Linked DNA regions of Homo sapiens: region 1 is linked to region 2. Evidence: fine-mapped expression QTL. A gene starts in region 2. The other region holds a variant in brackets. All regions are shown on one strand. Distances are from middle to middle.

Region 1 (8,111 bases), 24 kb after region 2:
ATTATGTACATACAGAATCCTAAGGAATCTACAAAATAACTAGTAGAAGTGACAAATGAATTTAGCATGCTCACAAGAAACAAGGCCAGTTTTTAAAACTGTGCTTCCATATATGAGCAAGGAGCAAATAACAAATTAAAATTTTTAAATACCACTTGTAATAGCATGAAAACATGAAATACTTAGAGATAAATTTAACAAAACATATGTAAGACCTGTACGCTGAAAACTGTGACACACTGATGAGAAAAATTAAAGAAGACCTAAAGCAATGGAGAGAGGTACTATGTTCATAGACTGAAAGACTCAAGATACTTAAAATGCCAATTCTCCCCAAACTGACCTATTGATTCAACATCATTTCAATTAAAACCCAGCAGTATTTCCTGATAGAAACTTACAAGCTGATACTAAACTTTATACTCAAATTCAAAAATTCAATCCCATATAATTTTTTAAAAGAATAAGAAAATCAGAGGTATTATACTAGCTTATTTCAAGACTGATTCAAGCCACCATATCAATACTGTATGTTAGAAGTGTTTCACAGATACATTAATCAACAGAATAAAGAATCCAAAAACAGACCCACACATATGTCTCCATTGATATTTGACAAAGTTGCCAAGGTAGTTCAACAAGTAAACAATAGTCTTTTGAACAACTGGTGCCCAAACAACTGGATATTTACTTGGGGGAATAAAATGAACTTGGACCCTTACCTTAGACCATACCCCAATGGCCACTTAAAATGGGGTATAGACAATGTAAACACTAGAATTATAAAACTTCTAGGATAAAAGTTTGTATTGTAGGAGAAAATGTTTGTGACCATTAGGTAAGCAAAGATTTCTTAAGACACCAAAAGTCCAAACTATAAAGAAAATTTGATAAATTAGAATTAATCAATATTAGAAAATTCTGCTGCTTGTAAGATGCCATTAAGAAAATGACAAGAAAATCCACACACTGAGTGAAAATATTGACAATACATATACCTGACAAATGACTGTTATCCAGAGTATATAAAGAACTCCTGCAACTATGTATGTCAAACTGCCCAATAAAAACTTTCACAAGATTTGGACAGACCTTTCCTAAAACATGTACAAACGCCCAATAAGAACCAAAAAAAGACACTGCACATCACAAGTCATCAGGAAAATGCCATTAAAACTACAAAGAGATAACATGCACACCCTGTAGAATGAAAAAGACTGGCAATGCCCAGTGTTGGAGAGGAGGTACATCAACCCTAAGAAATCCTAGAATAGGCAAAACCAGTCAGTGGTATCGACAAGGAGATCAAAAGTTGGCTGGGGGCATAGGGTAACTCATTGGAGTAGTGGAAATCTTCTATATAAGTATTGTGATAGAGGTTATAAGGATGTATACATTTGTTTAAAAATATTGAGGTATATGCTTAAAATGTAATACAATGCATTTTCTTATTTATAAGTGAATCCTCATTAAAGTTGACTTTAAAATAAACAGCATGCACATTCGAATGTGATCTGTAGTAAATTTTAATTTACTGGAGTTCAACAATGCATTAGATTAACTCAGCGTTCTGCACTTTGAACTACAGCTTCCCCTGCCATCTATCTTTCAATGGAAAGTAATCAGAAATTTCAAGTCTAATTAGTTACAAATATCATTACCATTTACACCCATCTATCTGTATAAATCAAGATTTTCTCAATACAGAAATATGTTGACTAATAAGATACCTTTGGATTTTCTACATATGCAATCACATCATATATTAATAAATCAGTTTTATTTCTTTCTTCCTATCTGTAGGATTTTATTTATTTTTCTTGCATTATTGCACTATTTAGGAATCCCAGTACGATGCTGAATAGGAGTAGTGACAGCAAATACGCTTGCTTGTTCCCAAGAAATGCTTGTGGGAAAAGCATTGACTTTCACCATTAAGTATGTTAGCCATGGGTTTTTACAGATGCCCTTTATCAGGCTAACGAAGTTCCCTTCTACTCCTAGTTTAAGAATCTGTTGTTGTTGTTGTTGTTTTTGTTTGTTTGTTTGTTTTTACCATGGAGGGTGTTGAATTTTGTCAAATGTTTTGTATCTATTGATACAGTCTTATGTTTTTTTCTTCTATGTCAATATGGTGAATACATTAATTCTTTGAATGTTGAGCAAGCTTTTTATTTCTGGGATACATTTTAAACATATACCTCACTATTTTTAAACAATATTTTTAAACACATGGTCATGATGTATTATCCTTTTTATATCTTTCTAGATTGAATTTGCTCATATCTTGCTGATAATTTTTGAATATATATATATATATATATATATATATATATATATATATCCATGAGGGATTTGTTCTTTAGTTTCTTCCATTAATGCTGGCCTTATAAAACAAGATGGAAGGTGTTTCTTCTTCCATCTTCTGAAACAGTTCGTGCAGAATTGTTATTACTCTTTAATTAATCCCACCTATCTGCCAGTGCCTGGATATAAAGTTATCTCATCCATGAGGTCTTCTCCGGTCCCAAAATACTGCCTGTAACTTACAATAATAATAATAATGTAACCTACAGTACTGCATGCTTATGATGGCACAGGTCCTACAGAATAAACATTTATCATTGATTTCAGTGTGTAAACCTCCAGCAATCCTCTGAGGAAGCTGTTGTTGCTACCTGTTTACAAATGAGTAAAGAAAGGCTCAGAGTTGTTAAATAACTTGCCCAGGGTCACACATTCTTTTATCTGATCATCAACTTTTCATTTAGTGCCTACTAAATTCCAAGGTGCCAGCAACTGAGCCCACCCCAGAGCCCGCTCCCTTAGCATGTCCATCAGTGCTTTCCAAACCATGGCCCTTGTGTCACCAGCATCAGAATCACCTAGGAGGTTGTTAAAAATGCAGATTTCTAGACTCCTCTGTAGTGGAAACTCAGGGAGAAGGAGGGGATGCTGGAACAAAGAATATGTATTTTTAGTAAGGGCCGCTTAATGAAATTAATGCACACTACTACATTCTGCCTTATGTTAATAGCTGTTTGCAAATTTCTCATTCTTCCCCTACTAGACCATAAATCCCTGACAGGACGCACTGTCTTATAAGTCTTGATACGCCCACGTAGCCACATGCACAACCTTGCCCACAGTCATTGTCCAACAGGCATTTACTGAACTAGAATGAAAACCACTTTGAGCTTCACATGCTCACACCTATTCACAAAGGGTCTCTCTGGATATCCTGACAGTGTCCCAAATCCCCTGTTGGGCTGAAAGGCTTTAGGAGTAAGCACTGGCTGACCCGGTAGCACAGACAGGGTTCTTTTCATCAGAGCTGGAAGGATCTGTAGAAACAATCTTGGCCACTGAAAGTCCTTAAAGTGAGGCAGAAATTGAGCCAAGAGAGGAGAAAGGACTTGCCCAGTGTCACGCAACAGTTCCC[A/G]CAAAGATGAGGATCAGCATTGAAGTCTCCTCACTCCCAGGGCACTCCTTCCCCACTTCACAGCAAGAAAAGGAGGCAGGAGTGTTCCATTTAGGTGGGCTTCCTGGAGGAGGTGAGCTGTCCTGAAGGAGGTGAAATGTCCAAAGGAATTTCCTTTCAAATGACAGGAAAGAAAGAATTTGGTGAGGAAGAGAAAAAGGGTTTATTTGAATTCATACTAAAACTCACAGGCAGAGAAAGGGAGGGAACCACAAGAGGGAGGATGTCCCAAATATTCTGCAACATCATCAGAACGGAAATGTTTAACCCAGTTCCCTATGGAAATCGAGCTCGTAAAACCCTTCTGCCTGTGCCTGTCTCCTTTTTGAAGCCCAGGACCTGACAAGTCAATTACCAAATTTGGTGGAGGAGCAGCAGAGGGCCCTGGTGGGAGGGTGTGGCCCAGATTCTGGGCTACTCTACACTTCGGAGGGAAAGGAGGGTCCCTCTCCAGAGGTAGCCCCTCTCTCCAATACCTGCTTAGAGCTTGATTTCTGTCACGCCTCAGGCCTGGGTCCCTCTGAGTTAATGTACAAGGCTAATTTTACTACTGGAGTCCAGCAAGAAAGTAGCATATATATGATCTGGAAACCAGAAGGGCTGTGTCTCAGGTGGGGAAGGGATGGGGAACTGGAAACGATAGAAGGAGCTAGAGGTTCAGACCACTGAAAGTCTCAAGAATTAAGGCCGGGTGCAGTGGCTCACGCCTGTGATCCCAGCACTTTGGAAGGCTGAGGCAGGCAGATCACTTGAGGTCAGGAATTCGAGACCAGCCTGGGCAACATGGTAAAACGCCGTCTCTACCAAAAATACAAAAATTAGATAGGCATGGTGGTGCATGTCTGTAATCCCAGCTACTCGGGAGGCTGAGGCATGAGAATCACTTGAGCCGGGAGGCGGAGTTTGCAGTGAGCTGAGATCATGCCACTGCACTCCAGCCTGGGCAACAGAGTGAGACTCCATCTCAAAAAAAAAAAAAATAGAATTAAGGCTCCCCTGGGAATAAATCTGCCACCTTACCTGCCTCACCTCTTTTCCCCTCAGAAAGTTATTAGAATGGATTGCTATTCCCAAAGCCTTTTAAAAAATGAATAAATTGGGAGTGGGAGACCTGGTTTCTGTGTCCACCCTGGGCCTTACCTTTTTCCTCACCTAAGTGAAAAGTTCAAATACACTGATTACCAAAGCTCCTGTCCAGCCTCAAATGTCTGGGACCAAGTCCCTGTTAAAGGTTGTGTTCATGTCTACACTATGTACATACCCGAAAACAGCCAGCTCCTCACACCACTTCTTCCCAACCTGCACCCTCTCCCCACAGACCTCTCCCCACGACTGAGGCCTGGGTGGTTCTCAGGGACCTTCTCTGATCAGCGGATCACTTTAGAATGCTCAGCCTGGAGTCTTGCCACCTTGCCACCTGCAGCCTTCAGAGCTGTTCCTGCAGCACCCTCATACCTGGGTCCTGGCTGGTCTGGAGGCAAGTGAATGCATCTGTTCTCTATTAGAGCCGTCCCTGCAACCTCTGGGAACAGGAAGACGGTCACAGACTCAACTAAGGACTCTCCAAGGTTTTAAAGCTGGGGTGGAGTGGGAGAAAAAAGGACCCTCCAGGAGTGGTTCTGAGTGGCTTTAAGCCACAGCTACTATAACCAAACGCCACATACAGAAAGCTAAGCTGACCTAGCCTGAGCCACCAACTCCCATTTGGGCAACTCTGGCCTGTCTAACACCAACCCCAAGCATGCCCAATCCCACCTGCCCAACCATTCCTGAACTCCCTGGAAGCCCTGCTCAGGTGACATGGCCTTCCTGAGGAAGGGGCTGAAGGCATCTTCACACCCACAGGAGAAGGCCAACCTGATGGCAACATCCATGCGACAGGCCCCGGGGGCTGCGGTGAGAGAGGAGAGAAGGGCTTGTTTGCTGAGTGTGGTGGGACTCCGCTGACAGGAGGGGTGTCCTGTGAAAATAGAAGTGGCTGTTTTGGAGGCCACTTTAGAGTCCTCCAGACTCTTCCCAGGTATCCTCCTCCAGGCTTGCTCAGAGCCCCCGCAGAGACAGAGGCCAGGACCTACATCAGGCTGAGGAAGGTCTGCCTTGGAAGCTCGGAGCTTGGAAACTCACCACGATGGTGCCAGGGGCTCAGCGGTTTTGCCCTGAGGAGAAGTGATCCCGGGCCAAAGCCTTTGTGGAAAAGGGAGAGGGCAGTCTGTGGGAAATGCTCAGGAAGAATGGGTTTTTCTAGAAAAGAGACTCTTCCACAAATCTACCTGTCCACCTCCCGGCAATGCCATGGCCCTCAAGTCTGGTAAATACTTTCTGAGAACCACACACCCATCCCCAGGCTCCCATTCATCCAGAGGCTGGCGCCTGGGCTTCCCTCAGGGAGGCACGCTCCTCACCCAGGAGCCCCTCCTTAATGCCCAAACCTCCCTTGTCCATGGCTGCCCACTTCCACCAAGGTTTGACATCACGCAGACAGCACATGATATGAATTGCAAATGAGGTTTATTATGAAGACCCCCAGACCACAGCACTTCCGAAAGCAGAGTGGACAAGAGGAGCTATATACACAGAAACACATTTCCCCCCAGCACTGCCAGGCTTAGAGATGAAATCCCTGGATGGGCCTGGGTCCTCAACAGAATACACATCTGGAAAATGGGCAATGCAAAGAGGCATGGTGGGGGCGGGAATGGGCATGGCTAGAAGCACAAACCTAGACAGCACAGATTCCGCCCCAGAACACAGAGGCGTCACTGGCTCTAACTAACTGGTTTGGAGAGAAGATCTTTCAAAAACTGTATGTGGACATTCTTTTCCCTCAAAGTGCCATCAGAGATAAATGACAAAAATTTAACTTGCTGCCAGTTAGAGGTACAGAGACAGGCTTCTACATTCTGGAGTGGGAGAGTCTGGGTTGGGAGAGTCGGTGGTGGTGGGGGCTCATCTTTATCTAAAAGAGAAGGTCACGCTGGAACCAAAAGCTTCACCTGAGCTACCCTTTACAGAGCTAGAACCCCCACCTCCAGAGCCATATCCTCCTCCAGAGCTGGAGCCTCCTCTAGAGCCACCTCCAGAGCTGTGTTTTCCACCTCCAGAGCCATATCCTCCTCCAGAGATGGACCCTCCCTTAGAGCCACCACCAGATCCGTATCTTCCTCCAGAACCACCGCCAGAGCCATATCCTCCTCCAGAGATAGAACCTCCTCCTCCACTACCGCCTCTGGAGCCAGACTGTCGGCCTCCAGAGCCATAACTGCTGCTTCCAGAGCTGTATCCTCCTCCGGAACTGGACCCTCTACCTCCAGAACCTCCAAAGGCAGCCTTGGATGCCACATTTGATGAAATGGTGCTGCTTGTCACAGCTGCAGAGAGAGGTGGTGTTACCACAGAGATTATGACTGCCTCTCCCTGCCTCCACCTGACACAACACCCCATGGAACAGGACCACACCCCATTACTTACACACAGTCACATTGCTGCTGAGGTCTCCAGACATCCTGTAAGGGAGAGAGAAAAAACAAGTTGTGGTGGAACACTTAGGTTCTGTATGCATGTTGTTTTACCACTTCCACCCGCAAATGTGCAGTTTAGCCTCTCTAAGCAGCCACCAGGGCTTACACACCCCACTTTCTTCTATGCTGCCAGGTCACACAATGACGACAGACCCCCTTCCATTTATGCACAACCTTGCATGTCAATCCCTCTCAATTTTTGCTCTGATAAAAAATGAACAGTTGCGTGGTTGATCCAAGGTCACTGAAAAGCAAATTCACTTCCTACTTTGCAACCCATTTGTGTATTTAAATCCATCTTGGAGAGTCTGTTATTCAGAATCCATGCCACATCAGAAATTATACAATGAGGCTGCCTGTGAACATTCAGTTCAGAAAGAACTGTGACTCTGTAGAGCCTCCCCATTCCTCTCTTCTTCCCACCCTCTTCAGCTTCAACTGAAAACTTTCCCACTTCCTCTTACAAGCTGGGCATAGGAGGCATTGCCTCTAGACAGGGACAGAGCAACCTCCTGAAGAAAGCCACTCCCTGTTTGTCATGCTGGCTTGCTGATGGCCTGGGGTAGCTTTTCCCCTTCCAATTGCTTCAGCCAGATTAAGTCACCCAAGATGCTGATAATACGGACAAAGGTCTCAGACTACAGAGGAAGCAAAGGGTGCCTCTTTGAAAGTTAGCAAATGGTTCCATTTGTCACTCCAGAAACCTGCAAAGAACTGGGGCTGGCACCTGCTCCGGTCAGCACGTCCCCACCAGTCAGCACATTCCGAGACATCATCTCCCCCATTCTGGGTCACCCGGTGGAGGGCACAGAAGCCACTCACCCTATGGACCTAGAGACCAAAGTTTCAGACTGTCTAGGACTAACCTGTTTTCCCATGATTTTGTTTTCTCTTTCAGAAAAGACCAGGATGTTTAACTTACTGCTTAGTTTAATTTAATGTGCCTTATGCATCATTTCATGTTGATAAATGTGTAACTCTCCAATCATGCTTTATGTCCTGAGTTTCTGCTTGGGGAACACAGAGAATGTCAGTTCTCAGTTGTCAGGAGGGCCTGCCCCATTCTCTGCTTTCCCTGTCTTTGCCTCCAGCCCTGGCTCTGGGAGAGATGA
Region 2 (8,223 bases):
AGAAACTGTTCATCACATATCTGTCCTTCCAGAAGACAGAGCCAGAGGTGGGGCAGGGGGAGCCTTACCCCCTCGTACAGACACTTGAAGAACTTGATTTCTCCATCCAGGGCATCCACCTTGGCCTGCAGCTCCACTTTGCTCGTGTAAGCTGCGTCCACGTCCTATGGAGAATCCAGATACCCCTGACCTCACCTTTCTTCAAGCCCAGACAGGCCTCTCCAGCGAACTGACACCTGCAGGCCCTGCCCTAGCTAGCTGCCCAGGACTTCAGATCCAAGGGGCAGGAACCGGCCTTCCAGCCACAACTTCACTGTCAGACTCACTGCGAAACCTGGGGCAAGTTTCTCATGCCTCTGGAACTCCTTCTGCCTCTATTTCTCAGAGAAGGGTGTGAGACTCTATACCCCACTCAGCCAGTCATTCAGCCAACAGAGGGAGGCAAGGACAGCCACGGCGATTTGCCAGAAACTAGCAGAGTTGGAAGGCAAACCTGCAGCCCCTCCCAAAGCCTGTCCTGTTCCCCAGCCAGAGGGGACATGAGTTGGGACTGACTATCCACATCTAGGTTCCTGTCCACAGACAAAGTACTGTGTGCTAAACCAACACCAGGTGTCCCAAAATGTCCCAAGCAGCAAGCCCTTCATCTCCTCCTTCAGCACTTTGGCTCCAGGCCCTTCTGCGGGGGGCTCAGACCTCAGCTGCTCCTCTCTCTTAGCCCAGCACCCACTGCTGGGGGACTGAAGGGAACCCATGCACCCTCCTCACCTTCTTAAGCACCACAAATTCATTCTCAGCAGTTGTGCGCTTGTTTATTTCTTCTTCATACCTGCAGGGAAAGCATCACAGGAAGCAGAGTGTGTGTCTGTGTGTGTGTGTATACGTTCTCATAGTGAAATGAGAAAAGAGATACCCATATTATATGCCTTTTAAGAGGTATTATTCTATACCTTTGCAAGTCCATCCCAACACACCAGGACTATTTGGCCAGAGTTGGAGGCCGGGTATGAAGTAACCTCCTCCTGAGCCTGGGTGGTTTGAGGTCTGATTTCCTCTGATGCCTGGGGAGTGAGTAGGTTCTTCCTCTTCCCACTCAGTATCTGAATCACAGAAGCATGCCAGCTACCCCTTTCAGCCATGATTCTTGTGTCAATCCTGCTGCCTGACAACCTACCAACAACTCCCCTCCATCCCTAGGCAGGGGTCCCAAGGAAGCCAGAACTATCTCCCAGGGGAGAAAGAAGGCACATGGCCCGTGTCCAGGACCGAAAGGCAATGAGAGAGGAAGCCCAACAGGAACTCCACCTCCTTCCCTGTGGCAGAGAGCAGCGGGTGGGTGGGGGGTGGTTCTTTGGAACTCAGGGGCACAGTGGTGAGCTTAGGAGCCAAGAGGCTGCGGCACACACAATACAGGCTCCCTTGAACAGGGAGCAGGAAGGAGCATGCCAAGGAGGGGATCACCTGCCAGGACAGCCCTGACGCTGCCCAAGAGGCTGGTTGTCCACTGTCTAGTCTGCCTCGTTGCCCATAGAAGGCTCTCATCTTGCTGGGACAGATGAACCCAATACCTCCAAGGCCAGAGGCAAACATCCCAGTGCCTGCTGGGAAAGCCTCACCCTGGGAGGCAGACCAGCCTGGAGTGGCGTCCTGCTCACCTCTTCTTGTAGTCCTCCACCACTTCGCGCACGCTCCTCAGCTCCGAGTCCAGCCTCACCCTGTCCCCAGACAGCGTCTCCAGCTGCTTCCGCAGGTTGCTGATGTAGCCCTCAAGGATGGGCTCCAGGTTATTCTTGCAGTTGTTCAGGTCCAGCTGCTGTAGCAGCTCCCACTTGGTCTCCAGCACCTGGTTCTGCTGCTCCAGGAACCGCACCTGGAACCCATGCCACACATACTTAAGCAATGTGGAGAGGGGATGTGAGAATTCCCTTCCTGGACAGGAACTGTGTTTTCTTATGCTACATTAGCTTTAAAAATGAGCCTCAGCCCTTAAAAACTGCCACCCATGCCACTCACACCCCCACTCCTTACCTAGGGTCCTTTATCTGACTGAAGTTCTCACTCTGAGGCAGCCCTTAAGGTTGGGAGGGGCACCAATGTCTTCATTTCCCTCTCAAACTATCAAGATCTAGATCTCCTGTCTCCTCTGCACTTATCCAAACCTGCCTGGACCGATGTCCATGTTCAGTCCAGGCCACCTCTCCAAGGCAGCCCCTTAGACACAAGCTGGCCTGTGCTAGCCTTCACACTGTCAGGCCTTCTGCTCGGGGTCTGGTGGCCCGTGCTCTGCCTAGTCTCTCCCTCCTTGTGCGTGGGCTCTCCCAGCCCAGCCAGAGGCAGATGTTCAGCTTATCTGGGGTCTCCGGCCCTCCTAAGTTGCTTTCATGTCTGAATCTCTACTATCTCAATCACAGCATTGTCCCAGCAGCAGAACAAGCATTCTCAAGTTGCAACCTACAAATATATCATTCCCTTGCTTAAAACCCTCAGGTGGTTCCACATCACCCTCAGGGTCAAGTCCATATTCCTTATCACACTCTTCATAATGTGCCCAGCCCTCCTGGCTTCCTTCTTTACTCATACAGTGATGTCGTAAACCGAAGGTCTCCCATTCCCCAGACAAGTTCTACCATGCTGCACGTGCTGTCTCCCTAGATTGCCTTTTCCCCACCTCCATCTGAAAACTCCTACTCATGCCTCACCACCCTACCTCACTGTCGCTCCGGGTGAGCTTCCCCTGCTCCTCTAAGCTTAGGAAGTCTCTGCTTCCCAATACCTTCCTACCACTTTGTTCCTCAGTGATTCTCAAACCTGAGTGTACATCAGCATCACCTGGAGAGCTTGTTAAAATGCAGGGTGCTGGGCCCTGCTGCAGAGTCTCTGATTCAGTTGCTCTGGGGTGGAGCCTGAGAGTGTGCATTCTAACAAGCGTCCAGGTGACGTTGCTGCTGCTGGTTCCAGGGCCACCTTTGAGAACCACTGCTCTAGGGCACCGTGACCTCCAGCTGCCTTGCCTCATAGGCTGTGTGTGTTACGGACTGAGTCTGAGCTTTCAGGGGACACAGGAGGAACAGCTGGGTCGCATGGCAGTCTAGATGCCCCAGGCTGTCAAGGGCATCTCCTTCGCCTAGCTTCTAAGTCTCACAGGCTGTCACTCTGCTACTTCTCAACTCAGAGACCGCTCTCATTGCTTCCTGGACACCTTCCTGGGCTAGGCTGCTGGCTCCTCTCACCCCTCCAACCCTGGTCCCTTGCCTCTGATGTCCAGGCTTTGTCCAGTTCCTCCCTGGGCTATGTCTGCATCCTGGGGAGGTGTCCTGCCTTCGTCTGCTTCAGACAGGGAGCACCCCAAGGACAATGAAGGCGGGGGAAGGAAGGGGCTCTACGGCATGAGCAAGCCTTATGGGCCCAGCACCTGGGGAGCTTTCAAGTTGTTTACCTGGTGTCTGATTTTGCTGGGAGAAAATGATTTCTTGCTCTCAGGCAAATTGAACCACAAATTAGGGCAGTGGCTCCCTCCTGAGTCCTTAAAAGGGGAGCCCAAGATCAGCTTTCTCCAGAAAGACCCACCTTGTCAATGAAGGAGGCGAACTTGTTGTTCAGCACCTTGATCTGCTCCCGCTCCTGGGCACGCACTTTCTGGATTTCAGGGTCCAGCTCCACGTTCAGGGGTGCCAGGAGGCTCTTGTTGATGGTGACCTGATGGATACCCCCGGGCGGGCACAACGACGGACACACGGACCCCAAGGCCACACTGCCAAACATGCTGCCAGCAAAGCCACTGGCCCGGCCCCGGCCAAATCCATAGCCTCCTGCCCACCCACTGCCACTGGCCACATTGAAAGAGATGCTCCGGGCACCCCCCAGGCTGTAAAGGCTCCGACTGCTGAAGCCTCCACTGAGCCCTTTGCCCCCTGCTCGGTAGGAGGATGAGCTGCCCCCTGAGAGCACAGCGGAGCAGCCGCTGAAGCCCCCCTTGGCAGCAGCTCCCGACTTGTAGGTGAATTGGCGGCTCATGGTGGGGAGGCCAGAAAGTGGGGATAAGATGCTGACCCTTAGCTGAGATGCAGTTCACCAGCCTGTGATCCTGGGCTCCCACTTTATAGGACTCAAGAGGGAGCCATGGGCCTAATTTGTGGGTTCAGTTTGCCTGGAAGCAAGAAATCATTTTCTCCCAGCAAAATCAGACACCAGGTAAATGACTTGAAAACTCCCAAAGTGCTAGTCTTGCAAGTCTTGCTCATGTAATTTGAGTTTTATCTAATGAACATGTGTAATTAGCATGGGCACATTATCCATAGAAAGATCTTAGGTGGGAGGTTTGTCGCAGTCTCAATTGCTGTTCCCCAGGGAGTGGTGGGGCCTGGGATTGTAGGGGTACAGAGGGGAGACCTTTAATTGACAGTGTCATCTGTTAGAAATCTCACAACCATGCCAGCATCAGATGGGCTGCTTCAGGGACCCTGGCTGAGCTGCTTTTATGTGGTTAAGAAGAGGCTGCTGCTGCCTGGCTTCCCAGAGTTCCTGGAGACAGGTTTGATGGCTGGCCAGGGCCATAGGAGAGGAGCACACTGGGAATCCAGGACCAGCCTCTGGCTGCCAGCCCCCTGCTGTGCCCTCCCAGGCAGCTCTCCTGCTCCTCTGTGCCAGCCGGGCTGCCCTGCTCACCTTCCTTTGCACACACTGACTTCTTTTTCCCTTTACCATCCCACTACCCTGACTCTTGACCTTGAAATTATGGTCATTGCACCATTCACGATGGCTGACACTGGTGCAGCACTTTACAGTGTAACAGAGCTCCTCACACAAGAAGCTCATTTAATCCACTTAGTCTGCATGGAGGGGAATGGTGATGATCCACATTACACAAATGGGGAAACCAAGGTTCAGATAATTGAGGATGTCATTCCTTTAGCAAACATTTAGTGAGTCCTTTCTTTGTGTGAATCCCAGAGAATGAAAATGCCCCCAAAAAGCACAGGCCCCAGCCTTGAGGACTCCCTTGGCTGGTCTTCTGACTCCACATTCAGAGCTATGCCCGCCTTATTCATTCGTCCATCTATCCGTCCAACCAGCCAGCCAGCCATCTACTTGTTCATTCATTTATCCATTCGTTTAACAGACTTCTCTTGAGGGCTGACTCTCTCCCAGGTACTGTGCTAGGCTCTTGGGTCCCGAATTATGAAGACCAAACCTAGCTCACAATTTTGGAGATGGGGAGGTAGGGGAAGACATTTGAATTTCATGGATCCTTGACATTGCCAAAGTATGTGACCCAAGAGTTTCCCAAATCCCAAATCCCAAATATATCCATAGTATAGAATTTCCTCCATAAAAACACAAGTATTTCACTAGCTGGAGTACTTGAATGAACAGTTGGCCCATCCTTCTTTTCTATTTCTGTATAGAGGTTATGATATGCCTCTAAAATTGTTGTACTAAGCAATTGCCAAATTCAACCTCCCCTCTGTTTTATACAATATGGTTGTTTTCTAGTTAAGAATAATCATTTTCTTTGATGTCTTCAATTTCACTAAAGGCAATGCCACTTGGAAGTCCTTTAATCTTTTTTAGCTAACATGAAGTTCTATTCCTTTTTTTCTTTTTTTTTTTTTTTTTTTTTGAGATGGCGTTTCACTCTTCTTGCCCAGGCTGGAGTGCAATAGCATGATCTCGGCTCATCGCAACCTCCACTTCCTGGGTTCAAGGGATTCTCCTGCCTCAGCCTCCTGAGTAGCTGGGATGCAACACCACGCCCGGCTAATTTTGTATTTCTAGTAGAAATGGGGTTTCTCCATATTGGTCAGGCTGGTCTCGGTCTCCCAACCTCAGGTGATCTGCCCGCCTCAGTCTCTCGAAGTGCTGGGATTACAGGCGTGAGCCACCGCACCTGACCCAAAGTTTCTATTCCTTTGTAAGTTTCTTTGTAAGGCACAAAGAAGACCAACAAAACTGCATTGTGATGAGAATGCTTAGTATTCCAGCCAGAATCACTCCCTAATTGGCTCATTTCAGCACACCAGCACTGGGGTGGAGGTGATTCAGGCCTGCATCTCAGCAAAACTACAAATTGCTGCATGTCACAGGCCCTGAGATAACCCCCAATGGCATTTATGCTGTGAATGCCAACTCTGCAGTATGGCGTGGATGTGCTTACGAGCAAACAGCCCCTCTCCTTATGGTTTTCACTTCCCCTCCCCTCCCTGGCCTTCTCATCTTGTGAACCTGCCACAGAGGCACTTCCGGAAACCTTCTCTGATCACTTTCCTAATCCAATCACACCTCTCTTCCCAGCCTCCCACATGTTGTTTGTTGTCCAAACAACAGCATCTATTATGTCAATTGTCTCTTCTAATTTGATGTCTCTACCTGTGTTCAGGAGGTATGTCAATCTTTCCTAACGGCCAGAAATTTTCCTGAGGACAAGATCCAGGTCCTATCCTCCCTTTGGTCCTCTCTACTCACTTCCCAGAACTCCAGTGGCAAAGGACTCTCAGGCAGTCATGGACTAGGCTAAAAAACTCTTAGGTGCCCTTTGAAATCATTCTCCCTAAGAACAGTATCCCTAGCACCTGTCATTGAAATGCCTCTAAGTGGGTTTTCACACAGTGAGCTCCTTATATTTCACATCCCTTATATTGCCCTCACCAGGGGAAACTCAATGCCAGATGAACCCAATTACCAAGTCAGCCCCACTTCCCACAGTGGGGCTGTCCTGCCATTAGCCTCTGCCCAGACACTAGGGCAAGAGTTTCTGATGGTTTCAGAAAAGAGAGAAAGAAAGGGGGGGGGGGGGAGAGAGAAAGAGAGAGAGAGACAGGCAGGAAATCAACTTTCTGTCACCCCCAGGGGCAATCAAATAAATATTGTGAAATCAGTATTCCCTATGTGGATATTCCACAACTAGAAAGATGAAGTAGACATACTTTTCCCTTCTTCACAAACATAAGAAGACTCTGAAGCGTAGAGAAGAAGGCACACCAACAGGGACCTCAGGACCCAGTGAAAGACATGATGATTATTTCTCTAGGTTTTCTATTTGTCTCCTATATTCCAGACTTGGGGCAGAAGAAGGCAGGAATCTGGAAAGGCTCAGATTTTTAAAGATTAAACAAAAGCTTGATCTCTGTAGCCACATCATCAGGAAAGGGGCAGCCTAGCAAGATGGAAAACTTACAGAGAATAATCACTCTATTCCATCTCAACACACAGAAAATACTATGGTTTCACCTACACCCACATCAGCAAAAGCTGAGTGTGAGGCCTAGACCTTCACACTCACCAGGCTATAATGAGGTGCCCCAACTGCCCCCTCCCCCAGCAGTTAGATGGAATCAGGGAAGTCCAAGAAAGAAGCCGGGATTCCATCCCCACCAGGAGGTAACAAGTGCCTGACCCACTTGGTACCAGTGGAGACCATGTGGGGAGCCCAGACTTCCACCCTCACCTGGCAATAACAAGGTAGCATCCACACCCTTTCCCCTGCAAGGACAATGTCAGAAGAAGGCAGCCAAAACAGAAGATTTAAACAATATCCAGAATCTCATAATAGTACCAAAATGTCCAAATGTTTATTTAAAAAATCACTCATTGTGCCAAGAACAAGGAAGTCCTCAAATTGAATGAAAAAAAAAGACGATTGATAGATGCCAATACTTAGATGACAAAGTTGTTAAAATTATCTGACAAAGATTTCAAAGCAGCCACAATAAACATGCTTAAATGAACAACTAAGAACATGCTAAATAGATGACAAATTAGACAGTTTCAACAAAGAAATTTAAAAACCAGAAGAACTAAATGAAAGTTTTATTTATTTTTTATTTTTTTATAAACATCCCCAACTTGCTTGTTTTATTGGAGAAGAGGACATGGAATAAACATCTGGGATGTGAGTCTGGGAAGAACCCCCTCTCCTCCCCATATATGCCTACTGCCCCAAACTAAAAATAACCAACTCTGGGAGAGCAGCTGAGACAGCAACTGGGGGCAGAAGAAGGAGACACGGAACTGGAGGGCAGTGGTGAAGAGACCACACGTGTGCTGGGAGGGCCCAGAGGCAGTGACAGCATGAACAGTGCAAGTACAAGTCTCTGTGCCTTCCCTGGGGTTGTGTATAAATATATAGAAATGAGGCCTTCTATCCCATTTCTCTCCCTTCCGCTCCTTGCTGCCTGCCACAGTCCCAGCTCCTCTTTCCACACGAGGGCGAAGGGAAGTGGAGGA

Evidence for each region.
Region 1: its variant is fine-mapped to the expression of KRT73 in whole blood (TOPMed, PIP 0.97).

What each region holds. Positions count from the first base shown.
Region 1 is chr12:52,638,586-52,646,696 of GRCh38, forward strand. KRT2 (keratin 2) reads right to left here. Exons shown (of 9, transcript NM_000423.3): 8 at 6,950-6,984; 9 at 5,973-6,849. The coding sequence ends at 6,434. Among named protein-coding and RNA genes, the nearest start is that of KRT2, 9.6 kb to the right of the region's middle. The variant A/G (reference allele first, on the strand shown) is at 3,443.
Region 2 is chr12:52,614,511-52,622,733 of GRCh38, forward strand. It overlaps KRT73 (keratin 73), which reads right to left and starts at 4,049. Exons shown (of 9, transcript NM_175068.3): 1 at 3,568-4,049; 2 at 1,656-1,870; 3 at 769-829; 4 at 69-164. The coding sequence starts at 4,014. KRT73-AS1 (KRT73 antisense RNA 1) reads left to right here. Exons shown (of 3, transcript NR_126005.1): 3 at 1-795.